Homo sapiens: one gene and its partners. The protein of the gene in region 4 purifies or fractionates together with the protein of the main gene of each other region. This does not show direct contact. Each region holds a gene or a part of one and is shown on either strand. Other genes may lie near its edges.

Region 1 (4,286 bases), on a different chromosome or scaffold from region 4:
TTTTATTCAACAAACATTTAGTGAATGTTGTGTGACCCTGTTTTAGGTGCTGGGGATATAGAATAAAGACACAATCATTAGCTGTAGACAACTTAGCCTAACGGAGCTGGATCCACCACTGGCAACCTTAAAGTTACCTCCCTTGGTCCTTAAGATGAAACGCAACTTCAAAGTCTGCCATGCTTAGCATCTTGTTGCAAAACAAATAATGGTCTACCTAGTTTGCTACTGGTAGCACTGTGGCTCTATTAATATTAACCGTCTATTGATGAAGTTAACTTTCATAAAGGATTCTATGAAAGTTCAGAGGCATAAAGTATTTAAGGACAAACAAGTACTGGTCCGCAACAAAAATAGCATCGGTATTCTGCTTTCACAAAAACCAAGAAAACCAAGAAAAATTTCATTCTGAGTATATACAGAACTGCTGGACAGAGGTCATCCTATATGTGTGGTACATGTACAAAATATGACATAAGAAGTATGAATTATTGCAGTCATTATTAAACAACGAAGTATGCCAAATCAGTCATCAGGTTTCAAAGAATCATAGCCTTCTTTCAAGAGGTCCCGCCACGTTTTAAGGAAACGTGCATTTTCTGTACATTTGAAGGCAAGTTCTTCCACTTGAGCTGATACTGCAGATGTGGCTTCAAGAAGTTTGGTTAATGAAAAGGCTGCCTAAAAAAAAAAAGTCAAACATAATTTTATTTTTAAAATTCTCATCTCATTTTATAAGCAGGCTGAAAATAGCTTAAGGCTTTGAATCCAATGCCCATGTTATTTTCTTTCAAAGTAATCAGTTTTCAAACTACAGCACTGGCTCTTTCACGGAACCTAAGAAATTCTTTAATATTGAGTAGACTTTGAAGAAACAGGTCTGCTAGAAAAATATCCATTATGTCTGAGATATGACAAATCAGTATAGTTGTTTTCTTTTTTTTTTTTTTTTTTTGAGACGGAGTTTCGCTCGTTTCCCAGGCTGGAGTGCAATGGCGCGATCTTGGTTCACTGCAACCTCCGCCTCCCGGGTTCAAGTGATTCTCCTGCCTCAGCCTCCTTAGTAGCTGGGATTACAGTCATGCGCCACCACGCACAGCTAATTTTGTATTTTTAGTAGAAACAGGGTTTCTCCATGTTGGTCACGCTGGTCTCGAACTCCTGACCTCAGGTGATCCGCCTGCCTCAGCCTCCCAAAGTGCTGGGATTACAGGCGTGAGCCACCGTGCTTGGCCCAGGATTGCTGTTTTCTATGAAAATACACTAGAGTCTCAGCTCAACAAGATGACTTGGACCCCTTGACACTAAGCGCCAGATATATCTGAGAGATTTCATCATAAATAATTCTTACTGCTATTTGGGTAACATGGGCATTGACCTGTGAACACTTTAAACAATGAAAATGTATAGATCAAAGAACAGAAACTCTGAGCTCTGACAAATAACATTAAAAAATCACACACAAATGCAGAAAACACTCAGCTCCTGGTGGAAAATTCACTTTTCAGCCAAACGTTTTCTTCACCAATGATATAAAATAAAACAGTGTTCCTCAATAACACATTAGCACTTCATTCTACATATTTACTTGCAATCAGTTTGTTCTGCAAAAATAAAAGCTGGTTAAGCACTCTAGTCATCCTTAAAAAAAAATACTTGCGGAGCAATGAGATAATCTAGTTCATCCCCTAGTTTCCAATCTGCAGGAAAGGTCAGGCCACAGAACTCTCCCAGGTTACACTCTACATACCTCATTCCACTTGACCCACTCAAGAGAACATAAAACTCCCCTTCCCTGTCTTCTCCCCTCCAGTGGTGTGTGAGTTACGGTTGGGAGGTGGGGTGCTAGTTTCTGGGGATTCGAGATTTAACAGAAACTATCCTAAGTATGCATTCTAGCAATCATACAAAGGGAGGAGTCCTGAACTAAACCGTCAAAGAAGCCAATCCACGTGACCTAAACCCTTCAAGCTGGGTCCAGCGCTAAGCAGGCCTGGGGCAGACAATGGCATTATCAGCTGTCCCTGGGCAGGTGGCCAACTAGAACAGCAGGCTCTAAGTCCCATGGAAAGAAATCACAGCCTGATCTCAAGTACCCACAGAAAGCCAGCAAACTCATGCAGTGAAAACTATTCTCCGAAACCCATGCAATGAAAACTATTCTCCGATGGGAAAGGAGGAGGCAGAGAGCCAGCAACAGGCAGCGCAGAGCTGCGTGGCTTCGGGTTACTGCGGATGATTGAAACCAGAAGGCGAGACAAAAAGAAACCAGTGAGGGGTGGGGCGGGTGGAAGGAAAACCCCTTAAGACTCCTCACCACTAAATCTAAAGGGGGAACCCTCAGAGAGGGGTGGCACTTTAGCTGCTGGCATCCCCCCCGCTTCCCGCCCGCACGCTCTGGGGCGCAGAAGGGCCGGTCGTCCCGGGTCATGGGGGTTGGGGGACCGATTCCCTAGCCTCGCGAGCCCCGCCGCCGCCGGTCTTCCCAGAGGCGCCGAGGGGGGACGCGGTCCCGACACCACACTCACGTCTCCGATCTGCAGCTCCACTTCCTCCAGCTGGTCCACCGTTGGGCCGCTGCTCCTGCTCGGAACTGGCCAGCCCAAACTCACTGGGCCGCCCGGGGAAGATGCTGCAGAGGCGTCTGAAGAGGAGGGAGAAGAGGGAGGCGGCGGGGGCGGCGAAGAAACCTGCAACTCCTCAGGGTCGGCCATGGGGAAGGGTTGGGACCGCGGAATCCGACCCGAGAAGCCGAACCGACACCAACTGTCTTTTAACCACTCGCGCCCAAAGCCGAAAGGCCCCGCCTCCTAACGCCAGAAATCCCGCCCAGTCTCCTCGTGGGTCTCAGCCCCGGACCACAAAGACGTTTCATTTTTCGGGACAGCCAATCATATGAGTCAATTCACCTTAGGCAACTCACGGCTCCTGCGCGAGCCTCCAATCGATCTCGAAGGGCACTCGTAGAGAAAACTACACCTCCCAGGAAGCCGTGTGCGTCGCCCCGCCTTCTACTGCCTTTCACTGCGCGTGCGTCGTGCTGTGGGATTCGCGGACCCCTCTGGCCGCGCTGTGGCTGTTTCACCGCTCCCCGGCTGGGACTTGGAGTCCCTTATCTTTCCCTGGTTTGGTACATGACCCGGAAGCCTCGGCTGGCCGTTGCGTCATCCATGGCGCCGGCGCAGAGCGAGAAGGAGGTGGGAACGCCGTGAAGCAAGAGCGGTCGGCAGAGCGGGGAGGCGAACTGCAGCAGAGTTCTTGCTTTCCGGCAGGTGATGGCGCCCCCCGCGGCCTAGAGGTCCAGCGCCCGCCGCGAGCAGCGGACAGTCCTCCTGTTGTGTCCGACCGAGAGTCCTGGTGACTTTGAACATGCTGGTGCCGCTAGCCAAGCTGTCCTGCCTGGGTGAGAGGAAACGGGCGGTGGGGATAAGTGGAGGAGTTAGGGCAAAAGGGACAAGGCCGGTCCTGGGGGCTGTAGGCACCTCTCGCCCCTTCTCTCATCAGCTTTCTCAGGCTATCTAGGGCAAAGGTCACGCGCTGTCAGCCTGTTGGGGGACCCTGGCTTCCTCCCTCTGGGGTTGCCCCAGTTGGTAGAATTAATATCTAGGCTAAAGGTCAAGGGCGGGGAAAACTTGTCAACACGCCCTCGGCATCACCACCACCTGTCAACACACACACACCTCGGTGGACTCCTGAACTGAGGCTTCCCAAATCCTGGTTCTAATCTTCAAACCTCTGTTGGAAATGGAAAAAAAAAAATCGTATTTGCCCAGTTTTTCTCCCTGGTCCTGACCTGACTTTCGTCTTCGGAGCCATTCTAGTTCAGTCTAAAGAAATTGAAGTCTGATCTGTCACATCATGGTTAACATTCATATGTTGACCAAGTCACCCAAGTGTATCTGGAGCCAGTTTTTCTGCGTTGTCTAAAATTAAGGGCTGGGCGTGGTGGCTCAAGCCTGTAATCCCAGCACTCTGGGAGGCTGAGGCGGATGGATCACCTGAGGTCAGGAGTTCAAGACCAGCCTGGCCAACATTGTGAAACCCCATCTCTACTAAAAATACAAAAATTAGCTGGGCGTTGTGGCCCACTCCTGTAATCCCAGCTACTCAGGAGGCTTAGGTAGGAGAATCACTTGAACCCGGAGGTGGAGGTTGCAGTGAGCTGAGATCGCACCACTGCACTCCAGCCTAGGTGAAAGAGCCAGACTCCGTCTCAAAAAAAAATTAAATTAAATTAACTCTAAGGGCTTTATCGTGTTATGGGTATTCTGTGAACCATCGTGACA
Region 2 (3,500 bases), on a different chromosome or scaffold from region 4:
AACAAGAGCAAGAGTCCGTCTCAAAAAAAAAAAAAAGAAGCACTGAAAGAATGTTTTGGGGAAAAAAAAACTAGTTAAACTCCTAGAAGCAAATTGCAAATTACATCAGAGAAACATACAGAACTCTTCTCTTCATATTGCTAAATCTGAGATTTCCAATCTTCTATTTTTATCACATACATTTCTTTAAAAAAAACTTTTTTTTAATGGAGACAGGGTCTCACTTGTCCAAGGCTGGAATGCAGTAGTGTGATCACAGCTCACTGCAGCCTTGAACTCCTGGGCTCAAGTAATCCTCTAACTTTGGCCTCCCCTAAAATACTGGGATTACAGGCATGAAACACTGTGCTGGCCTAAAAATATTTTAGAGACATCATCTAAAATATGGAATTGGAAACATTATGGAATTATTTTTACATATCCAATTGGGACAATATCACAAGTGCTAGGTTCAGATTATTTCCAAGGTCTTTAAAGTTTATACTGTGCACAGCAACACTGATCGGCATGATTTAACATTCTTTTAAATCATGTTTCAAAAGTTAAAATTTTGCTTTTCTTTTTCCATTCAAAATATTATAATTATCTTAAAAAGAAATGTTATAATATCAAAGGCACCAAATTAGCAAAATCAAACAGGTAGGTTTGTTTGTTTGACCACCTTTTCCATACAGCTATTATAGTATGTTCTCACTGAAGGAAAGATCCTGGCCACTGTCCTAGATAAGGTCTAATACTATAAGTGGGTATCTTGAGAGAATCTGAATATACAATCCTAGATTACAATATGGCTTTACACTCATAAGGTGGAATAGAGAATATAAACTGGGTAAAACATCAGAACTGCAAAGATTTTAGTAAACAATACCAAAACCTTTATATTGTATATTGACCTTGCATATACTCCTGATAATAATCCAGTAGATTCTAGCTGTCTTCTGGAAGCTTGCATACAAGTAAACACTGAAACTATTTCTTAGAGCTAGAATAGATACGGTAGAAAAACAGGCTGGGGATTAAAAGTCTTTGATTCTTATTCTGCCCCTGCCACTGCCATGTGCCCAGGGCAGGTTATTTCCTCTCTTGGCCTTGGTTCCCTTAAGAGAATAACCCTTCTAACTTTTAAATTCCATGATTCTAATTATTTAATATACTGCTAGTAAGTATGAAAAGACTAAAATCATATACATCAATGTGTCCTAGGGAATTTCATACACAATTCAAGGTTATTTTTGGACACAGAAAACTGAGTATTTATCAAGTTCTGTATTCAAAGAAGCAGAAAATGAAATCTGTCTTTATATATAGCATCTTACAGTTGTTTCTTAGACTTGCTGAAGTAATCATATTTAGCTTGCATCTCAAGCCTTATCCTAAATATCGAGGAATAAAACCACATCATGTGTTAAGAGGTACTCCAAGCTATCTGGTAACATAGAAATTATGTTAAGACAGGAAAATACATACATATCTTAATGGAGATGAGGTGATAAAACAAGGAGTACAGCAGAAGAAATTTCATCAGGAAATGCAGCACAGATGAAATGTGAATTGAAGTAGAGCCATAACCAAAAACAGAATGAAAATAAACCAAAATGTAGTAGTTAGTTTTAAAATATTTGGCAATAAATTTGTGAACCACCAACCAAAGCTTCAAGTGTGGAAATGAGGACTGGGGTAATAAGGAAAATGTTGTCTATTTTTTTTGGAATCATGATTATATGCTATCTGGCTTCACCCTACGTCCATTTCTACCATAGACAGTGACCATCATTACCAAACCCACTGACCAGCAAAGAGATACAGGTGAATGGAGTGGAGGAAAGCAGCAGTGAAAAGAGGAAGAAAAGTGAAAAAAGTATCATATGCAAAGTACTGTTCCTTTAGGGTCTTGTAGGAGATGGTGTGGTAGATGTAAACCAATCAAAAATAAAAAGATGAAATTTCATATCAACTTCCCCTCCACTCTTAACTCAAGACTTAGGGCTTACTTAGATGTCTGCCTACTGAAAATAATCACACATCTTCATGTCCGTTGTAACAGCTGGCCTCCCACACTGGCCTTTGCAGCCACGTCCACATATGAGGCTCATTATGAAGTAATGAGAACATGCATATAGGACACAAACAAATATCCACCTCATTACTCTTTGGTCACACATGTATCTCAATGGCCTCAGCTCTGAATACAAAGCACATAAGCAAACAAATATAACAGCATCAGTTAAATTCTGGTGGAAAGTAAGTAGTTTTTGTAGTTATTATATTCAATTACACCTAATTACTAGAGTTAAATGATATAACAGCACTTTGTGAGATAATGCTCATAACCAGTTAAATTTCTACAGCCCAGTTTGGCCAATATACGCTGAGTGATTCCCCATGAATCCATCTTCTTCCACTGAAATAAATTAAGGTTAGTTTTCACCTGCTCCAACTATAAACAGATTTAACTTTAAAAAGTATAGGTAAAGTATGTGAGACATTTCAAAATGGGTAGGGAAAAAAAAGAAAACATTGATTATTTCATTTAACTCTGAAAGGAGTAATAAAGCATATACTGCTTTTCTTCAAGTTCTTAAGGGCTTTGAATTATGTGAGGATATTTAAAGGTTAAACACATGCTTTTAGAAGCACAATGTTAATTCCTATACTTTAAACCAGATACTTCCAGATAATTTAATTTTGACACACACATCCAAATATAGCACCAACTGGAAAATTAAAACTCCTAAATCAGCTCAATGAATTCCTAGTTTTGAAATCACTATTTTGCGCCAGGACTCTAATTGGAAGTATGTATAACTTCTGATTTTCCATTTACTATGCTAAATAAAACTGTTTTATAGACCCCCCACCGCCGCTGCCCCGTATATCATAACTTTTGTTTTGAATGAGTATCTTGGGAAGACAACTAGAACCTTACTTTTTTTTTTAAAAAAAAAAAGGAGCCCCCAAATATACAACATGCTAATGCTATTAGAAATCTGGATCCAATTTACCTGAAGCAGAGCCATGAGCTGAGGTCATACTTTTGACCTTGGAGTCTGAGAGTCGAGAGATACTGTTAGCTCTAATTCTAGGAGAAAATTTATCTGATGGTACTAGTCTGGCTCCACTTCTAATGATGGCTTCTGCGGTCCTCGAAGAGGCACTACTTCTAGAAATTGTTGCTTCAGAGTCACTACGAGCTGACAGTGAGCCAAGTCGTGTTCTACGAGGCTGAGCCAATAAATCAATCCGAGAGATGTTACGCCTTCCTGTGGGAGGTTTTGATGTAGAACTTGTTGTGGATACTTCAGAAGCAACAGATGCTTTGTCAGCATCAGCAAGTTCACTGTCTGAAGCTTCACCAAGTCGTGCTCTGCGCAAGAGGGAAGTCCTGGTAGGTCGTGGCCTTGGAAGGGTGGTTGATTTACTAGATGAACCAGATACCACCGGAGAAGTCTTAGATTTCGTTACTTTACTTCCTTCCAGTTTGGAATGTACATGCTCATCAG
Region 3 (3,500 bases), on a different chromosome or scaffold from region 4:
TTCTTGGGGACCAGAGGAACAGAGGGAGGAAAGCAGACAGCCTAGGACAAGGCAGACCAGGCCAGCTAAGGGTCCAGGGCCACCCCTTACCTCACATTGCGGTCCTGGCAGGCCACGGCCACGTACTTCTGGGTGATGTCAATGTCCATGTCATACAAGGTGGTTTTCTCTGCTACGTGGTGGGTACGGACAAAGTGTAGTCCATCCGAACCCTGGCAGGGCCGGCAGGACCTTCAGAGAATGCCCCGACAACCCCCCACCCCAGCCCCCAAGGAGGCCATGCCACCCTACCTGCTGGGCACTGCGAAAGTAGATGCTCTTGTCAGCCCCACAGCTGATCATCTGGATGTCTCTGTTGCCTAGGGGAGGAGGACGCTGTGTGTTAGGCAGGGCTGGGCCACATGGGCAGGGGACCCTAGCTGGGGAACTCCACTGCAAGAGCCATCAATCAACTGTGCTGGGATCAAGGCTTCCTAAAGGTGGTGAGGTGGGTGCTGGGTCTGGGTGGGACTCTGTAAGGTATGAGCTGTACGTGTGAGGGGGCACAGGTGGAGCTGTGGCCAAGGCAGGCTCTGCAGAGCAAGGGCATATAGAGAAACAAAGGCTGGGGACAAAGAAGGGACACCCTCTCCAGTCTGGGATTGAGATAGGTGACTTGAGTAGCGGAGTAGAGGCAGGACTGCAGCAGCGACCAGTGGAGACAGGCTGGGAGGCTCGTGCCATCAGGATCAACTGCAAGATCCACATGAGCCTTGGGCCAGGCCCCATGCATGTAGCGGGTCTTCCTGAATGCTCACCACCCATCCCACTGGACAAGCATGAACACAGAGGTTCACAGAGTCCTTGTCCCAAGGCACACAGAGAGGACAGGGGCAGGACTGAACCCAGGCATTCTCTGGTGCCAAGGTCAAAGCTGTTAAACACTGCTCTGAACCTGGGCCTCCCCTTTGAGCCTCAACTTCCGGTCCGTACAATGGGCATGGTGACAGTTCCTTCTCTGGAGAGTGATGTGAAGCCCTTGGAACAGGGACTGCCACATGGTAAGCATTAGAAACATTCTTGCTTTTATTATTCTCATTTCTTTTTTTTTGAGACAGAGTTTCGCTCTTGTTGCCCAGGCTGGAGTGCAATGGCGTGAGATGCCCCCGGCCGTCTCATTTCTTTACAGAATAACAGTTTGGTGAGGATGAAATGACAGAACAAATATAAAACTCTGAGTCTGGGCACATCACACATGCTCCTTCATGACAGGACATTTGAGAGGGTCCAGGCCTGACATACAAGTATTAGATGTTGCTCAAGGAGGAGTCATTGGCTCACAGAAGGGAGTGAGCCCCATATAAGGGAGGAAGGGTAACCTGGGAGGGACCCAGAGAAGGCCTGCAAGCCTCTGGTAATGTTCTGCTTCTTAACCTGCACGTGGTGAATCCAAGTACCGTATTTAACAATATTACGACCATGAGCAATTAGAACAGTCTCTGCTATCAACAACGTCCTAGTTCAAACCTTGCTCCTAAGAACTGTGGATACTCACTTCGGCCACCACGCCCAGCTTATTTTTTATTTTTATTTTTTTTGAGATGGAGTTTTGCTCTTGTTACCCAGACTGGAGTGCAGTGAAACAATTTTGGCTCACTGCAACCTTGGCCTCCTGGATTCAAGCTATTCTCCTGCCTCAGCCTCCCAAGTAGCTGGGATTACAGGTGTGCACCACCATGCCCGGTTACTTTTTTTGAATTTTTAGTAGAGACGGGGTTTCACTATGTTGGCCAGGCTGGTCTTAAACTCCTAGCTTCAGGTGATCTGCCTGCCTCAGCCTCCCAAAGTGCTGGGATGACAAGCATGAGCCACCACGCCCGGCCTATATTCTTCTTTTTTTTTTTTTTGAGACAAAGTCTCGCATTGTCACCCAAGCTGGAGTGGAGTCACTGGCGCAATCTTGGCTCACTGCAACCTCCGCCTCCCGGGTTCACACAATTCTCCTGCCTCAGCCTCCCGAGTAGCTGGGATTACAGGTGCACACCACCATGCCTGGCTAATTTTTTTGTATTTTTAGTAGAGATGGGGTTTCACTATGTTGGCCAGACTGGTCTCGAACTCCTGACCTCATGATCTACCTGCCTTGGCCTCCCAAAGTGCTGAGATTACAGGTGTGAGCCATGGTACCTGGCCATTATTCTTTTTTTTTTGAGACAGGGTCTCACTCTGTTGCCTAGGCTGGAGTGCAGCCTCCACCTCCCAGGTTCAAGCAATTCTCCCACCTCGGCCTCCTGAGTAGCTGGGATTACAGAAACAACACCCCGCCCAGCAAATTTTTGTATTTTTAGTAGAGACGGGGTTTCACCATGTTGTCTAGGAAGGTCCCGAACTCCTGACCTCAGGTGATCCACCCTCCTTGGCCTCCCAAAGTGTTGGGATTACAGGTGTGAGCCATTACACCCGGCCCCAGTCATTATTCTGTATACTGTACACAGATACTGTATTCACTTGTTTGGATATATATTTTACAGGAGAGTTGAAAGAATGAATCCTTTTTTAGCAGGGTAGCTAGCAAGGCGCAGGGAGCGGGAAGAAAGGGGCTCACCAGCGAACTTGATGGCGGTGATGGAGGAGGAGTGGTCATCCAGCGTCTGCTCCAGGTTGTAGTTCTTCTCCACGTTCAGCACATGGATCAGCCGGTCCCGACTGGCTGAGGCCAGCAAGGTCAGCCCTGTGAGAGGAGAGAATGAGACTGGTTCCTGAAGGCTGCGTGGGTGCCCTGGCCTCCCAGAAGGGCAGTGTGACCAAGCTGCCCAGTCCTCGGAGAAGGGGTCTTTGGTTCTTCAACTGTAGCCAACTTGGCCCAAGCCTGGCAAGGGCCACTCCCTTAGCTCTGTGTGGTCTTTCCCAGAGCCCCCACACCCTGGCATTTCACCTCCTCACCACCAGCTCAGGGAGGATGAGTCTCGATGGGCGCATGGACGCTCCTCCAGGGACATCCACAGCAGACGCCCCAGCAGAGCCCAGCGCTCTTGCCTGCTGGGTCTGTGCTGGGTAAAGCCCTGGCAACCTCTCAGCCTCTTCCAAAACCAGTGTCCTCTCACCCTCTGAGGTCTGGCTACCTGGGCCTTGTTCAGGTCCTATTGACTGCCTGTGGCCAGACTCCCATCTGCCACCAGCCTTCCCTACTCTGGTCACTTGCTATGTCTGAGGCCTAATAACATGACCTGAGGCAGAGGGGAGATCAGGAGAGGCGAACCGAGTGAAGATATGTTTCAAGACAAGTTGGTGGGGCACACAGCATGGGGGATGAGAGAACGAAAGAAGAACATGGGGAAAATCACATCAGGATATAACTCCACCAACTCTGTAACTCCCAAAGTGCTGGGATTACAGGCATGAGCCACCGTGCCCAGCCTAGAAAACATCTTGAGGAGCCGGGCATGGTGGTTCACGCTTGTAATCCCAGCATTTTGGGAGGCCAAGGCGGGTGGATCACCTGACGTCAGGAGTTTGAGACC
Region 4 (4,219 bases):
GGTAGGTCTGTGGTCTTTTGGGAATCACACTACACAACAGAAGGCAAGCTGGCAGTGAGCGGGCATTACCGCCTGAGCTCCCCCTCTTGTCAGATCAGCAGGAGCATTAGATTCTTACAGGAGCATGAACCCTATTGTGAACTGTGCATGTGAGGGATATAGGTTGTTGCATGCTCCTTAGGAGACTAATGCCTGATGATCTGAAGTGGAACAGTTTCATCCCCAACCCCACCCACGGAACAACTCCCTTCCACAAAACCGGTCTGTGGTGTCAAAAAGGTTGGGGACTGCTGCTGTACACTTTAGAATGCTTAGCAGCATTTCTGGTCCTCAAACTACTGTATGCCAGTATCCTCATCACCCCCAGTTGTGACAATCAAAAATGTTTCCAGACATCGCCAAATGTCCTGGTAGGGGGTGGGGAGGAACCATTCCCTGTTGAAAACTATAGTTCAGCAGGATGAAAACAAACTACAGAAATACAGAGGCAGAAGAAAGAGCATGTTTCCCATCAGTGTATTTTAAGATGTTTTAAGCTTCTCAGGAGGATCTTTAGATAATTTGGACAGTTTTCCTGTATAAGAGTGGTGGAAACTGCAGCAATGCAGCATTTCGGACCTGATCTCTCGCCATTGGCTTCACTCTACCTTGCTCTTCACGTGGAGGTCAGCTAGTAATAATTTCAGTTTCTTTTGGATCTCGGTCAGAGCATCAATTTTCTGCTCCAAAATGGACAAAGACCGGGCAATGCAAAAATCAATATCATGGTGTACTCCACCAGCTCTCTCCTGGATGTTTTCCAGCCATTGGCTAGATCCCTTCCCTGAAATTGTGGTATCCTTCCCTAACAGAGTGGGTAATGTTTCAACCTCTTCAATCTCTTTCTGCTCCTCACTCTGTACATAAGGTATTTTAATAAATTCATCCCTCTGAAGGGACATTTCTGAATTTCCGATGTGACTTTTTAACATCCTTGGTGCCTCATGTCCAATCGGATAGTGGCCACGATGGTAGGGCCTTACATCTACATTTAATTTTTTTACTCTGTTTGCATATCTTAAAGTGTTGAGAGTGTTTTCACAAGAGGTCATCCCCGGAGAGATGGTAGCAATCATGCAAGTGGAGGAGTTCTGGCCTATAAAGGAGTCCCGGAGCACCAGTGTGAGTTTGCTGGCTCTGAATGGGGTGTGAGGCTTGTTCTGACCCAAAGCCAGAATACATTCTTTGAGGGCTAGAAGACTCTTGTTAATCTCTGCCCCTTCCAGCTGCCTTTTCCGGCTGGCCTTGGTTGTATCTGCTCCTCTTTCATTCCCAGCTAAATCAACGAGGGAAAACTTGCCATGCATTATCCGTCCTGACTTCAGGATGATCTGGAACACTGCATGGCTCCTGGATGAGTGAGCGTTGACAGGTGTTTGCCTGGAAGTCCGACAGCTATTCCCTATTTCCACCAGGTTCAGCACTTCCTCCACACAACACACCTCTTTCTCCTGCAGCCCGACCACTTGGATTTGCTGATTGCCATCCTCAAGGACTTGCAGCTTCTTCTTCCAGTTCAACAAATCATACACCTTGCCCCCATAAATCTCAAAAAATGTCCCATAGACTTTGAGGTCCAGCTTCTCATATGTGGAGTTTCTGAGCAGGAGAAAGACATCCTGTGCCACCAGAGCATAAATGCCCTTAGAACAATCTTGGGCCGTTCCTGAAAAGTCTCCACCCATGGTGTACGTCTTCCCACTTCCCGTCTGCCCATAGGCAAAGCAGGTGGCCATGCCCTTGCGGAAGATGGACTCCACCAGTGGCTGGGCGGTGAACTGGTACACCAACTCGTTGGAGGCTTTGTCATCGAAGGCATGGTCGAAGCAGAAGGTCTGGTTCTGCAGGTAGCGAGTGAGGTCCACCTTTTGCTTGGACTCATGCACCATAACCACATTGTCCGAGGGGACGGTGATGATATCCAGGTCCTTTAAGGTTGTCTCTCGCTGGTTGAGAGGCCGCTTCCTCACGCAGACGCAGATGCGATGTTCTTGCGGGGGCTCCAGGACTGAGATCTTGCTGCTGTCCAGGTGCCTGCGATACTCTTCGATCATGTGCATGATTTCGTAGTTGGGGTTTCTGGTATTGACATCGAGGGCGCGTCTAGCTCGGATCTCCTGCTGCAGCCGCCTGCGCTTTTCCCGCTGCTCCTGCAGTTTCTGGATTTCCCAGAGGCAGGGAGACTTTTTCTGCTTCATCAGACAAGGTTTGCTGGGGACCCTCACATCCAGGCTGTCCCCTGAGGCTGTTTGGTTTTTCTGGGGGATCATCGCAACCCATTTCGTGGCGGTACGCTGGTCCCTGATGGCCGAAGAGGGCGCCAGAGCCAAGGGGGATAAGGGCGGGGGCGGCATGGGGTGTTCAGCAGAGTCCAGAGCTGGATTCAGCAGGAGTATGGTCTCCAGGTCAATCTTCTTGCCTTTTTTGACTGCTTTCTCCACCCACTCTACCGTGACCCAATAGTTTTCTCTGTTGATCTCCGTGACCACAGCGAGGTGGATCCGCTTGTCACTGCGCTGGATCGCCACGTAGATGCCCTCTTGGATGTCTCCGAAATGTGGCTTCAAGGGTTTCAGGGGCGAGAGACATGGGGATTCAGGGAGGCAGAACTGGCTGGCCATGGTGAGTGATGGAGGTATCAGGGAGCGCTCCAGGGCCCTTGGGGTTGGAGCAGCAGGACCCAAGCCAGCCTGAAGCGCCCGGAGCACTGAGCAGGGTTGCAGTCTGTGCCTGCCTTTGTGAGCCTAGCGCGCCGGGGCCCGGACTGGGGCCACTACGTCACAAAGGGATGAGATGAGGCGGCAGAACCTAGGGCTTAGGAGTGAATGGTACGGGAGCACAAAGGGATGGAGAGATTGTTCTCTGCCAGTGAGGGTGAAGGGGTTGGAGGAGGATGTGGCGTGCTCTCCGGATCATGGCGAGAAAGAACAGGTAACAGAGAAGCAACGGGAACCATGGCGTTGAAATTTAATTTATATGTCCCGTGTACATTTATGCCTAAGCATAAAAGGAGGCCTTGGCTGGCAGTCTCAAAGCTCAGTGCTTTAATTTGAGAATTGCTATGAAGTTTCCTTAAACTTTAACTCTCCAGTGATCAGTGGGAATAGATGAAGGTAGAGCTATTTGCAAATCTCAGGACTCGATATTCAACAGGATCCCAGAAAGGCTCCTCAAACCCGCCATCTTTGTTTTTTCACCTCCTTCAAAACGTGTAACTTGTTTAAGAGTCACAACTTAAAGTTATTACAGTTTAATCGGCTTTCTCATTACAAAATCAAAATGAGTAGAATGTAGCAGGTCGTTGTGGTAATTTGCTAATATGAAACTACCTTTCGTACAGCACCTGGGTTTGCAAACACAACATGTGTATCACATTCCAAGTGGCTCTGACAGCTATAAAGTGAGTTTTGTTGTGCTGTGGTCACCACCATTTTTGAGATTAGTTCAGTAATTACCTTTCCAAACTCCTTCAGTAATTACACTTCTGGCCTCATTATCCATAATTGGGAGAGAAAGAAAAGGCATTGTGTGGAAAGAGATAATTAATCTTATACTCCCCCCACCCCTGCAGTACTTGTGTGTGTCCTTTAGAAGTTGTTAAGCAAGGCTGGAAGGCAGCTAAGACCATCGGATGCAAAAATATATTTTGCCAAGATTGCAATATTTTCATGCATAAGAATTAGCTTATAAAATAAATGACATTGACTTTTAGACAGGCCAAGCTCAGAGTAAGGGTGATGCCTTACGTTCAGCTCACTAGCAACACCCGTGCATGTTGTCTTTTGGACTGTTGAATTTTATCATAATTATAGCTCCAAAGTAACATGAAGTAGCAAGTTACAACCTTCCCTAGGAATAAGGGCCTCTATAGAAATAAATTCTACTATAAACTAACTTTTCTGTTCAGTCAGTCTAGTAAAGCTTAGATTTTGAAAAGAAGGTGGAAGGAGGATACTGGATAAATTAGATAAGTAAGCAGTGCTCATTTCAAGAGGAGGTTGTATGCAGGTGGAGGGAGAGGAGAAAGGGCTTTAGGCAATTGTCTTCTAAAAAATATCATGTTTTATTTCCCCAAATTATCAATACTTAAAGTTGTGCTTTAAATCAGTTGTTCTTTCTTGGTTTCAAGGCCATGATGTAGATATTCTTAATACACTGTATTTGTCATTAGCACTCTGTC
Region 5 (3,500 bases), on a different chromosome or scaffold from region 4:
CACTGGCTTGCTACTGTACATAAAAAATAAAATCCAAACTCTTTCCCATGTCTTAAAAGGATATGATCTGGCTCTCCCTTCACTCCTCTCCCATTATTGTGTTCCTGACAAAGTCACACTCCAGCCACACCTGCTTTCTTCCATTGCTCTAGCATGCCAAGTTTGTGGCCACCTCAAAGTCTTTGTGTCTGAATGGTCTCTGCCTGGAATATTTTCCTCAGATCTGTGCATTTGTTGACTGGCTCACCATTCAGTTATTTTTCCAGATGTTGCCCCTTCTGAGAAAGGCATTCCAGAATTATCCTCAAGTACAACCTAGTGCAATCCCCTGTCTTGTTTTCTTCACAGCACTTACATCCATCTGAGGTGATTTCATTTACGTGCTGGTTTGCTGTTTCCTTACCCTTACTGCAGCTAGAATGTAAGTTCTCTTAGAGCAGAAACTTTGCTTGGTTCACAGCTATAACTCTGGGATCTAGATAAATACCTACACATAGGAGATGCTCAATAAACATTAACTGAATAAGAAGTATGTTTTTTTCAGAAATTACTTTGTACTTAGCATTGTTAGAAGCTATGAGAAACACAAGAAACAAAGATAGTTGTTAACCTTGAAGAACTTATGGAGACATAATATTCAATGAATATTATGTTCTACTTTTCAAAAAACTCTGCTTCCTAAATGTTCTTTGATGTATCTAGACAGTCTTTGCTCTTAAAGAGCAAACATGGCAATTCTAAGATAATTAAAAACCTGTTTACACCTGCCCATTATGATTAAAATCAACTGGGCCTTGAGCCTAAACCAAAATTAGTGAGCTATTCCAGAAGAGTGGTCCCAAGCTTGACAGCATATAAGAATCTTCTGGGGAGTAGGAGTCTAGAATCTCAACTCAGACCTACTGAGATAAAACTCGGGAGGACCAGGCCCAGAACTCTGTTTGTTCTATTAATATAAGCCTTCCCAGGTAATTGTAATACACAGTCATAATCTACTCTCAATTACAGGGGCTTTCTAGTCCTCTTCATGTTCAATTTCAAATCATTAAAACAGAGCTAGTCTTTTCATTTGTCAACAAATGTCCACTAGTCTCTTACTTAAATGTCAATTCAAAAACAGAGCCTCCGCTGTCGTTGCAAATTGCAAGAGTTGGATCATCTGTAAACTAAACAGAGAAGGAATTTATTTTCTTGTACATTTTTAAACAGTCAAGTATTAAGGAGGAAAAAATTATACAATTTTGAAAAACTACAATATACACATTTAATAGCTTTTGAAATAACCTAAACTAGATTCAGTGCTCATCACTCTAAACTTACAAACTTACCTTTATTTAGAGTAATAATGGTCCAATATCTTTAAAAAAACAGAGGCTTTCAAAAAGCAAAACCACCTTTCATCACGATAAAAGAAAAATACAAACTATGATTGATTAAAAACCCTAAAGTTCTCTATTTGGGTTCTTACAATAACTTTTTGTAACTTGCTATTACTAAGTAAATGAGATCCTTTGGTTACATTTACACCTGCCCAGTTTTAAAGAATAAAGACTCTAAAAAATACTTGGTATCTTTGAGAAATAAACTTATCTGAATATGTCTTCTGAATAGCTGAAAAGTAAGTCCACTATATCTAAAACATTTTAACTTTTCATATGTAACTCTTCCCAAAACGTGCTACCTCCTTGATCTTCTTCCACAGCATATACTTCAGTTATCACTACCTAACTTAGAAAACTCAGAATAATAAGTCATGTTCACAATGACAGACAGTCCTAAGGTGACCTGAAGTATGGTCAATGCTGCATGACACAAAATGGAATAAACTGAACTTGTACCATTTACAGTGACTATCCTCCCTAAACTCAAAGGTTAGTGAACCATCCTAAATAGCACGCCTCAGGTTCCCAGTCAGGGATGGCTGAGGTACTGGAGGCCACTGTAAAATTCTTCTTCCTTGACCCAAACACACGCATAGTTAAGAAGCCCCACAACTTTGCTCTTACAGCCTCGATGAGCAGTTGCCAGAGTGGGAAGCATATACCCTAGGTGTGTGCATGACATGGTCCGCTGGAGTGCAGGAAAAATAACAGAACTTGTATTTCTGTTTAATTTTCTATTTCTTTTGTACGTGCTTTATAATGTACATAAAAATTAGTAAAGTAGTGTATTCATATAAACGCACACACACACACACACATAAATATCCATAAAGAATGAAATTCCAAATTGTTATTGATGAGATACAGGCTTAAGTTTGGAGAACAACGTGTAGGAGTATTAAAATGCAAGTGGCTGATGTCAGTAGAAGACTTCAGAAATATTCAATCCTATGTGTCTTACTCCAGTGTTATTATCTACATGTACCACCTTCATCACCATTGTCAAGCAACACAATGGCTCCTACTATATGTTATTTATCTCAACTGCATTCTTCTCTTTTCTCTCTGCTTTTATCTCTTCTGTTTCTTATTCTTTCTCCCAGTATTTTTTTTTCTGCAAAAGGATTTCTCTTGTATAAACACCACCATCTAGTTTTTCCTTCAATCAAATATTTATTGAGCAGCTACTATGGGTAAAACACAAAAATAAATGACAAACAGATTGTGATTTCAAAGACATTCATCCACTAAGAGAGATAAGACATATATACAAACAACTATAACATATTAGAAGTTGGCACAAGCCATATGAAAAGAGGTCAAGATACTTTGCCATAATGCTCTGAAAGAGAAGAAATTCTCTCCACTTTTACTTGTCTTGGTTGTTTTTATTGTTACTAAATGCTTCAACGCTGCTCTGTCACAGAAGACTTTTTTGTAACTAACTTAGATACAGACATACAAACTCCAGATGCTTGCAGACTTTAAAAAGCATACTTACGGATGACAGAGCTCTGCAGAGCTAAGCAACAAAATGTGTAGATGATTAAAATCTAGAAGATCTGATTTTAGACTTCTCTAGTTATAATCCTTTACCTTTTATGCTTCTGAACATGGGCTTGACAGCGTGGAAGAATCAACATTCACATTGTATTTATAAATGAAATCTGTTACCTAAGTCAGTTTATTTTTTCAGGCCTATAAGGAGAAAGCCAAGACTAGGATCTTAATGCTTTCCCTTTAGAGGCCTGAAAGAAAATAAACCAATAGATTCATTTCTAAACATAATCCAAACCTTGGTTTTTTCACGATCTGTGCCTTGAACCTCAGGCAACTCCCAAAAAAGGGTGACAGAGCACACCACCTCAGCAATAAAATTTTGATGACCTAAACAAAGGTAAAAAGACCTTTTAAGAGCTCCATATGAGTTTCAGCAGGGTGCTGCCCATCTTTATGGCCAAACTCTAGTCTAGCAACACACCAATTTGCCCTTTTTGCCGCTGTATCAATTAGACTTCAATACAACTTGAAGCTGAGTATTTCCATACTAGCCCATCTCTAGTTTTAACCTGGAAAAACATCATGTTGGGCTAGTCAAATAAAAGACAGCTCAATGTT
Region 6 (3,500 bases), on a different chromosome or scaffold from region 4:
TACACATTAAACAATTAATGTGCATATACAGTATTATATTCAGCTCTGCAAGGAGTTACAAAGGAAAAATCCACTACTCCTTTACTTTAAAAAAGTGTTCCCACTAATGGTGGAGAAACATTAAAGAAACATGCAAAAACAAAAAACAAAAAACAAACAAACAAAAAAAAATGATCTGGCCAAACACCAGATTACCTACATGCATACAAAGGTATTCATTAAAGAGCCCAACATTCTGACATGTATTCAGACGGCTGGGAAAGGACAAAAAGTGTTACTGGAGTCAGGTCAGGCTCCTATGGAAAGGTTTCGTAGAGGAGAATCTTCAGGGGAGTATTTACAGAGGGGGAGGAAACTAAAAACAAGTCTCACAAAGACTGAGAAGAAGGTGGCCCATCTGTGGCAAAGGAATAAAAATTCTGTGAGCTTGTGGATCATCCACTGAGTAGGGGCCAGCAACATACTGTTATTTAAAAGCAAGCTGAGTTGTATTAACAGGTGCAAGGCATGAAAAGACTGGGAAAAAAATACTTCCTCTCTGCTTGGTGTAGGCTGGACCTCTGGTAAGAGTTAGTGTCCAGTTTTATATGCCATGCATCAGAAAGGTATCCAGACACAGGCAAGGATCCAGAGAAAAGTAACAAAAATGATTAGAGGAATGCCTTCTAGAAGCTATCAAGAAAGGTATAAGGAGTTGAGCTTTGTCGGTTTCTGAGTCTGAAGTTGAAACTGTATTGGTCATCTGCCATCTTTGACCAGCTTTGCCCAGCTTCTCTGTTTAAGTGACCACATAATTATTCAGAGAATTCAAATGCTTCATTTCCATGTGGCCCGTTTCACAGAGAAGACTGAGATAGGAAAAGGTTAAATAGTTTGCTGAGGTTCCTGTAGCAAGCCATGAGCAAAACTAGCATCATAATTTTAAATCCTGGGGCTGCCTGTGGGTTGTTTAATTCACCAATCCACAGCACCTCTCTTTATATGGACACCCCCAATGACTGTAACAATGAAAGATGGAAAAATTCTCTGCAAATTTCCTTGGGGGGAGAAACAAACTAAAAAGGAATGTCATGCCTCACTAGTGAGGCCCATATAAACATCATCCCCTTGTATCCCCCTGGACTGATGACACAGGACGCAGTCCATCTGATAAGCTGTCAGCAGATGGCTGGATCCCTTATTGTACCCATTACCCACCAACTTCAATTCCAAGCAGGAATGATAATCAGTGCTCCAGACAACAGATGGAGAATGAGGAGGTGTGTCTGGTGTGAAGTCAAGGGGGAAAACAGAAAGCCAAGTTTCTCAAATCCATCAGGTCTTCTCTAAAACAAATTCATCACATAACAACCGGAATGCAACAGTGTGTATTCAGTGAGTTGCAAGGGGTTTCACAAAAAGCTCAGGACTTTCTGAGTGTGTGTCATTCTACACTTTTAGCAAGGAGAGAGGAAGTAAGAAAATCAAACAGTGAACCAAAAGCGGGTAAGCCATATTTGGTTGAAGTTAGATTTCTAATATATTGTAAAGAAGACAAAAAATCAAATAGCTACAGCAACTCTAAAAAAGGATGGGATTCAGTGTTACTCACTAAAAACCAACAGCTTGGGACTAAGGGGTCAACAGCACCAATTATTCTTTGCCAAATATCCAGCCTGGATACAGCCTGCCTTATGCGCATAGACATGGAGGGTTAAACTGCATATGCTTCACCCCACTAAGTTCTGTGCCTAATCAGGAGATGTTGGCACAGACACATACAGAACCAACAGGAATTGGACAATTAAACAAGACATCCCAAATGGGATCTTTTTCTTAAGTTTCTAAGACAAATATAACTGGACTCAAGGAGGGTAAAGGGCCACTAAATTAAGACCACCAGTCTTTACAACAATCAGTCAAACTATCTAGCATTTTAACCCTTCTGCTGAGAAACTGTAGATTTTTAAGACTTAAATAGCTATGAGAATCTCTTCCTGCTAAGCCAGATTCCCACTGTGGCAGCTCAGTTCTAAAGCCACCTGTGCCACTAACTTACTGGGTGATTTTTGGTAAACAGTACAGTCACTCCATAAATTCACTCCCTGTCACCCATACCTGCCAAAATCATAAGCAAAAAGGGACTGGCCATGCTTGAAGAAATACTTATTGGTATAATTGATAGACACCAGTGATATTTAGCAAGGGGTTTAGCAACCATGTGGTAACCTTGGTGCTTGCTGATCTTGAGAACACTCAAATATCTCTGGCTGGAGGCTTAGCTGTGAGACAGTGCTAGGTCAACCATACATGCCTGTATCAGTCTACAGTCCCAGGACACGTTTGAGAAATCAGACAAGGCCAAAATGAAATCTGACAGGACGAATATTAATCAATAACAGAACTTGGACACAAGTACTGCCCTTCCTTATGCTACTACAGTTGGCAGTCACTCAAAGGCAGCATGGCTATGATGAGAGCCTGTGTAACAAGGCCTTGGGAATGAATATGTTGCAGACTGAAAAATGAGAGATGCGGAGACTAACCAATTTCCCTCCAACTTATCTATTTCCTGGCCTAAAGCAATACCTCCCTTGTTACAAACTTACACTGACTCTCTGAGGAAGAAGGCCTTTTTATAAAGCCAAAACTGAGTCATCCTGTTGAGAGACACATATCAGACATGTCTCTGCTAAGCTATCCCTTTCACTTCAGCTAATATCTCTCTTTCCTTGCTAGGACTTCTAAATTCCACAGAATTTGCCACTACAACATAGCCTAATTCAGCTAGTTCACTTGCCAAACATTTCTTTGTACATAGTATCTCCTCTTTGGAATATACACTGTTGCAGGAAACATTTTAACATCCCTTTCTCCAGGCCTAAGCTAAAAGTAACAATGTATATGAAAGTATCTTATAAACAGTAATTGTTAGATAAATGCAAGGTATTATGGTATTCTGGGTATACATACTATCATTGGTCATTGCTGCAACCAAGACAGAAAATTATTTCCAACCATCTGCTGTTAATTTTTTTTTTTTTAGGACTCATCAACTTTTAAAAATCCATACATTCCTGCTTCCCAGGAAAAGCCATATGGAGGGTATAGAAAGTTGGATTAATCAGAGGCTAGGTCTCCTGGTATGCCAGGGGTTACTATTTAAATGATACAAAGCAGTGATTTAGGGGAAAAGGGCAAAGAAGCATAATTCTGATGGAGCTCAAGAACTCCTCGGCATGGCTCTGTTCCATGCCCCCATCCTAAGGCTTCAGAGTCCTAAAGTGCCATCATCCTCTGCATGAGTTCCCAAGCATGGCCCAGTTGAGTTTACTTTACTGGGAAGACACAGGGAGAAAACAATGAATGGGAACTGGCCACCTGACTTCCACAGAGAAGAAACTAGCTTCCTTTTTTTCCACACAGGAGGTCAAAAGCATTTCAGAATAGCTCTCTGTTGCATACCCATCTACGACTTATGGAGACAAGAATCACATAGACTGTCAAGAGCTAGGAGGGCA
Region 7 (4,078 bases), on a different chromosome or scaffold from region 4:
TGGGGTCTTCCTCTATGTGGCCCTTGTGGACATGGTGAGAGATGTCGGGTAGAGCAGAGAAATCAAGGGCAGTGGGGAGGCGGGAGTGGAGAGGGAGGTAGCAGTCCCTCCGCCTCTACCATTAGCTCCTGGAAGGGCGTCAGACCATAGGCCCGCAAAAGTCTGAGAAACAAGGGACTAAGGTGTTTGGGTGGGGGCTGCTGATGCTTTCTGACACCATTCCTCTGGAGTTGAGAGGTCAGGGGCAAGGCCAGAATCCTGACATCCTCTTTTTCTTTCAGCTACCAGCCCTGCTTCGTCCTCCGGAGCCCCTGCCTACGCCCCATGTGCTCCTGCAGGGGCTGGGGCTGCTGCTGGGGGGCGGCCTCATGCTTGCCATAACCCTGCTGGAGGAGCGGCTACTGCCCGTGACCACTGAGGGCTGATGGGGCCAGTGGAAAGGGGTCGGGTTGCCCTTCCTTCCCCCCAACCACAGGAATGGAGGCGGGACACAGGGCCAGTAGGAGCAATAGGATTTTAATAAACAGAACCCATCCCAAAGCCATGACTACGACAGTTGTACTTGCACCAAAACAGCATAGAAAACCAGAGTGTGGTGGGAGGACCCGAAGCCGGTTGGGGGAGGATGTGAGTAGGGGCCTGGAGGGTGCAGGGTCATTAATCTGCGGGGAGAACATTGTGCTTTAGCCCAGGGAGGGGAGGGGTGGGGCAAATGCACCGAGGTCCCCACTTTTTCCTGCTGCCCTCGGCACCCTGGGGATGCAGGCATCTGGGCACATCTGCCCCTTATTGCTGCCCACCAGCGTTAAACGCCCCCGATCCCAACACTAGCACCACAGGTGGTTCCGGGGCAGGGAGAGGCAGGAATGGGAAAATTGCTTAGAGAAAGATTCCACTAGAATCCAGTGAATTGTGCTCAGTTCTCTTTACTTCCTACAACCGAGTACATGGGTCACAGGGTGGAGGGTGCAACAGGACATGGAACATGCCCCTCCGTGCCCCCCAACACACACCTGCACACAGGATGGTGGTGTCTGCAGCATCACAGGTCATGCAGGGCATGGGGAAGGGGAGGTTCACACACACATAGATGCCCACAGCGGGTACCAGACGGAGAACACCCCTGAATATACATAGCTGTACATGGGGAACCCCCAGGTCCCCACCCCAACCCTCTCCCCTGTCTTGCTGTCCCCCGCAGGGGAACTATATTGCTTTGAGAGAGCCACCCCAGGGGCTGCTCTGCCAGGCACCCTCCCCTCCCACCCACCCCCATTTTGGCACATCTGCAAGACACACAGCAGCGAGAGTAGGCACCCTCCCTTCCCAGGCTTCTGTGGCCTGGAGCTGGAGAAGGGGGTAGGAGACTTCATCCTCCATCCTCCCCTAACCCTTCCCAAACCCCTGCCAAACCCACTCAAGCCAGAACCCACCCCCACCCCCCAAACACACATACAAAGCTGAGCTATCCAGGAACACAAGGGAAACAAGGAGATTGTCCAGGGTGGGAGCGGAGGCAGCGGGGGAAGAAGACTGGAAGCAGAGACCTCCCCCCTTGTGGGGGGCAGACTGGCACAACAGCTACTTTAGTGCAATTGGAGAGGGTGCCCAGAGTGAGAGGTGGAGAAGGGAGGGAAGGCGGTCCCCAACTTCCCTGGGGGCAAAGTCAGGCTTCCAGATTCCCCAGGGAAAGGGCCTAGCAGGAGTGGGTGAGGGCCAAGGTGGATCCTCTGGTTACCCGCCACCCTCTGCCCTCCCAAATGCAGTGACAGTGTCCCCCTCACACCTAAGTGGGCAACAGCAGCCTTGGAGTCAGTACCTTCAAGTAATTCAAAGAGCAGACCCTCCCCACCCCAGCTTCACCCCATCTCTGGGATTTGGTCGCTTCTCTAGGGGTTGGGTTGGGAGGAGGGAGCCCCCAAGGCAGACCCTTCCCTCTCTACCTCCCGATTCCCAGACCACTGGGCTTGGTCCTCAAAGATTCCTCACCTCCGCCCTTGCCCAACCTGGGTCAAGGCTGCAGAAGGCTGGAGCCACCACAATTAGAGGGGAAGGGGCTGCTTTGTTCCTTATCCCTCCTTCTTAAAAGGTAGGGTTCAAACTAGGCGGGATGGGGGCCCATACTGGTTTGCCCCAGGAGTAGGGTTTCTGGGCTAGGGTCTGTAAGGCTATTTTCCTTTGCGGTGGGAAGGGGAGGTAGGGGATGAACACTGGGTATGGGAAGTGGGTGAGAAATGGCTGAGAGGGAAGGAGGAAGGGGCCTCCCCGCTGGAGCAGTCACTGGAGTCATTTAGACAAAAACACTCATGTGCATAAGATACACAGTGCGCAAACTCAGCCCTGCCAGCCCGGCCCCAATCCCACCTCTCAGGACTCCTTCCAAGACCCTGGAGGAGGTTCTGGGGATACAGCTGTAGAACCGTTCACTCTGGCCCCATCCACCCCACCTCCAGCCTCTTCTCCCCTTCTAGGTCCAGGGAGTAAGAAGGTGCTCGGGTGGGCAGACAGTGGTGGAAACAGTATTGAGTTTTCCTTTGGTTACATATTGAAGGCAAAGGTGAGCTGGACTTACAGTCAAAACGGATAGGGGTGAGGAAGGAAGAGGGGCCATGGCTGGGGTTGGAGAGGGAGGTAGGCCCTCCTCAGCCCCTCCACCCCAAGAAACACATCTACGTGGGGTGGCAGTCCCTCAGTCTTTTCTCTCCCACGCCCCACAGCACCAAACAAAAGGAGAAGCCCCCTCCCCCAGGGGCTGCTCCCCACCCCAACCTGGGCTGTACATTCAGTGGTTTTCAGCAGTCCTATGGCTCAGGGGGCCACGGGGCAGGGGAGGTGGCCCGTCAGTCTCAGTGGACAGTGGCAGTGACCCGGGTCTGCTGGTCCTTCCTGGGACCCACGGTTTGTGCCATTCGTTTTTCTGAAGGATAGTATATGACCCTACCAGAGCCACCGCCCAATCAGAAATAGCTCCCCCAAAATCAGAAACTAAAAACTGGCTCTTTCCATCTCACCCTCTGATTCACACGTCTGTTTCCCTGTCTCCTATGTCGCCCTCGCTCTGTTTCCTTTGCTGGGACCTGGGGCTGCTCCCAGGGTCCTCGCTTAAAATAGGCCTTTTCACAAAAGTGCTTATTACTTGAAGCAAGTGCTTTAGGGCTGCGGTGGGGAGAGGGGGGAGGGGGAGGGCAAAGGGAAGGCGCTGTTCCCTCCCCGCCCTCCCCCATGAAGACTGGGGGGCATTCTGCCTGTTTTACTTCTCCACACCCGTTTAAGTCAAAGAGGTTTAAAAAAAATCTTAACATTAAAATAAATATGCAGTGGCCATGAGAATGGTCAAAATGCTTCAAAAAACACTAGGGCTGGGGAGCCCAGGGTGGGGCGTGGGGTTTCCTTTGGCATAAGGAGAGGAGGCTGCTTGTCCCCCAGGCTTCCTCACAGCCACATATGGAGGGACAGAGGACTCCCCACCACCTCCCAGCACTGCTGACAGTGCGCTGAGGGCAGCAGGGCGCAGACAGCCCCCAGAAATCTCATCTAGCAAGACAACGGGGCTCTGACACTCAGACGCTTCCCGCCATCACCAAACATCACGAAAGGAGAACACGACTCACACCCGGCAAGTTCTCTCTGGAGGACCCATCTTCTCACTCCCCTTGCCCCCCACCACCTAATTCCCAGCACCAAGATGAGAGGGAGGGGGTGGAATGGGAAGATTTCAGGAGAGAGAATTGAAGGGAAGGCAAGCTTTGCAGAGCCAGCAGGGTTGGGGATGGGGGCTGCAGCCCTTAAGAGAGGTCACATTGATTGTCATATAGGGGAGGACACGGTGTGGAGGGAGGTGGGCAAGAGGGGCGTCACAAGGCCCTTTGGCTTTGAAAATAAAAATAAAAACTAAAAGCTGCACAATCCTTCTCATCAATAATGGTCATTTGGAAGCCTTGAAATGATTTAGGAACTGAGGGTTGGGAGAAGCAAAACACAGAGAGACAGGGGATCAAAAGGGACCATGAAAAGATAAGGACTTGGACAACACCCCAGGCTTCTGGAAACCAGCATGAGGTATGGTTAAAGGTATCCG

Evidence for each region.
Region 1: the proteins of KIF2B (region 4) and C4orf46 purify together in Homo sapiens (affinity purification with mass spectrometry; one large-scale study listed by BioGRID and IntAct). This does not show direct contact.
Region 2: the proteins of KIF2B (region 4) and CEP170 purify together in Homo sapiens (affinity purification with mass spectrometry; 2 studies listed by BioGRID and IntAct, with this or other methods). This does not show direct contact.
Region 3: the proteins of KIF2B (region 4) and WDR62 purify together in Homo sapiens (affinity purification with mass spectrometry; 2 studies listed by BioGRID and IntAct, with this or other methods). This does not show direct contact.
Region 5: the proteins of KIF2B (region 4) and VPS8 purify together in Homo sapiens (affinity purification with mass spectrometry; 2 studies listed by BioGRID and IntAct, with this or other methods). This does not show direct contact.
Region 6: the proteins of KIF2B (region 4) and TMEM164 purify together in Homo sapiens (affinity purification with mass spectrometry; 2 studies listed by BioGRID and IntAct, with this or other methods). This does not show direct contact.
Region 7: the proteins of KIF2B (region 4) and ANKRD52 purify together in Homo sapiens (affinity purification with mass spectrometry; one large-scale study listed by BioGRID and IntAct). This does not show direct contact.

Annotation. Positions count from the first base shown.
Region 1 is NC_000004.12:158,669,088-158,673,373, forward strand, and holds the start of C4orf46 (renal cancer differentiation gene 1 protein), read right to left. Parts: upstream 2,801-4,286; 5' UTR 2,715-2,800; coding exon 2,529-2,714; intron 682-2,528; coding exon 526-681; 3' UTR 1-525. Other genes in the region: ETFDH (electron transfer flavoprotein-ubiquinone oxidoreductase, mitochondrial isoform 1 precursor), read left to right, coding at 3,370-3,403.
Region 2 is NC_000001.11:243,161,282-243,164,781, forward strand, and holds part of CEP170 (centrosomal protein of 170 kDa), read right to left. Parts: coding exon 3,003-3,500; intron 1-3,002.
Region 3 is NC_000019.10:36,085,897-36,089,396, reverse strand, and holds part of WDR62 (WD repeat-containing protein 62), read right to left. Parts: intron 2,711-3,500; coding exon 2,585-2,710; intron 360-2,584; coding exon 292-359; intron 213-291; coding exon 91-212; intron 1-90. UniProt on the Homo sapiens protein: Required for cerebral cortical development. Plays a role in neuronal proliferation and migration.
Region 4 is NC_000017.11:53,821,475-53,825,693, reverse strand, and holds KIF2B (kinesin-like protein KIF2B), read right to left. Parts: upstream 2,768-4,219; 5' UTR 2,661-2,767; coding exon 639-2,660; 3' UTR 501-638; downstream 1-500.
Region 5 is NC_000003.12:184,850,166-184,853,665, reverse strand, and holds part of VPS8 (vacuolar protein sorting-associated protein 8 homolog), read right to left. Parts: intron 1,167-3,500; coding exon 1,099-1,166; intron 1-1,098. UniProt on the Homo sapiens protein: Plays a role in vesicle-mediated protein trafficking of the endocytic membrane transport pathway.
Region 6 is NC_000023.11:110,006,114-110,009,613, reverse strand, and holds part of TMEM164 (transmembrane protein 164), read right to left. Parts: intron 1-3,500.
Region 7 is NC_000012.12:56,237,307-56,241,384, forward strand, and holds the end of ANKRD52 (serine/threonine-protein phosphatase 6 regulatory ankyrin repeat subunit C), read right to left. Parts: 3' UTR 501-4,078; downstream 1-500. Other genes in the region: SLC39A5 (zinc transporter ZIP5 precursor), read left to right, coding at 1-34, 282-425. UniProt on the Homo sapiens protein: Putative regulatory subunit of protein phosphatase 6 (PP6) that may be involved in the recognition of phosphoprotein substrates.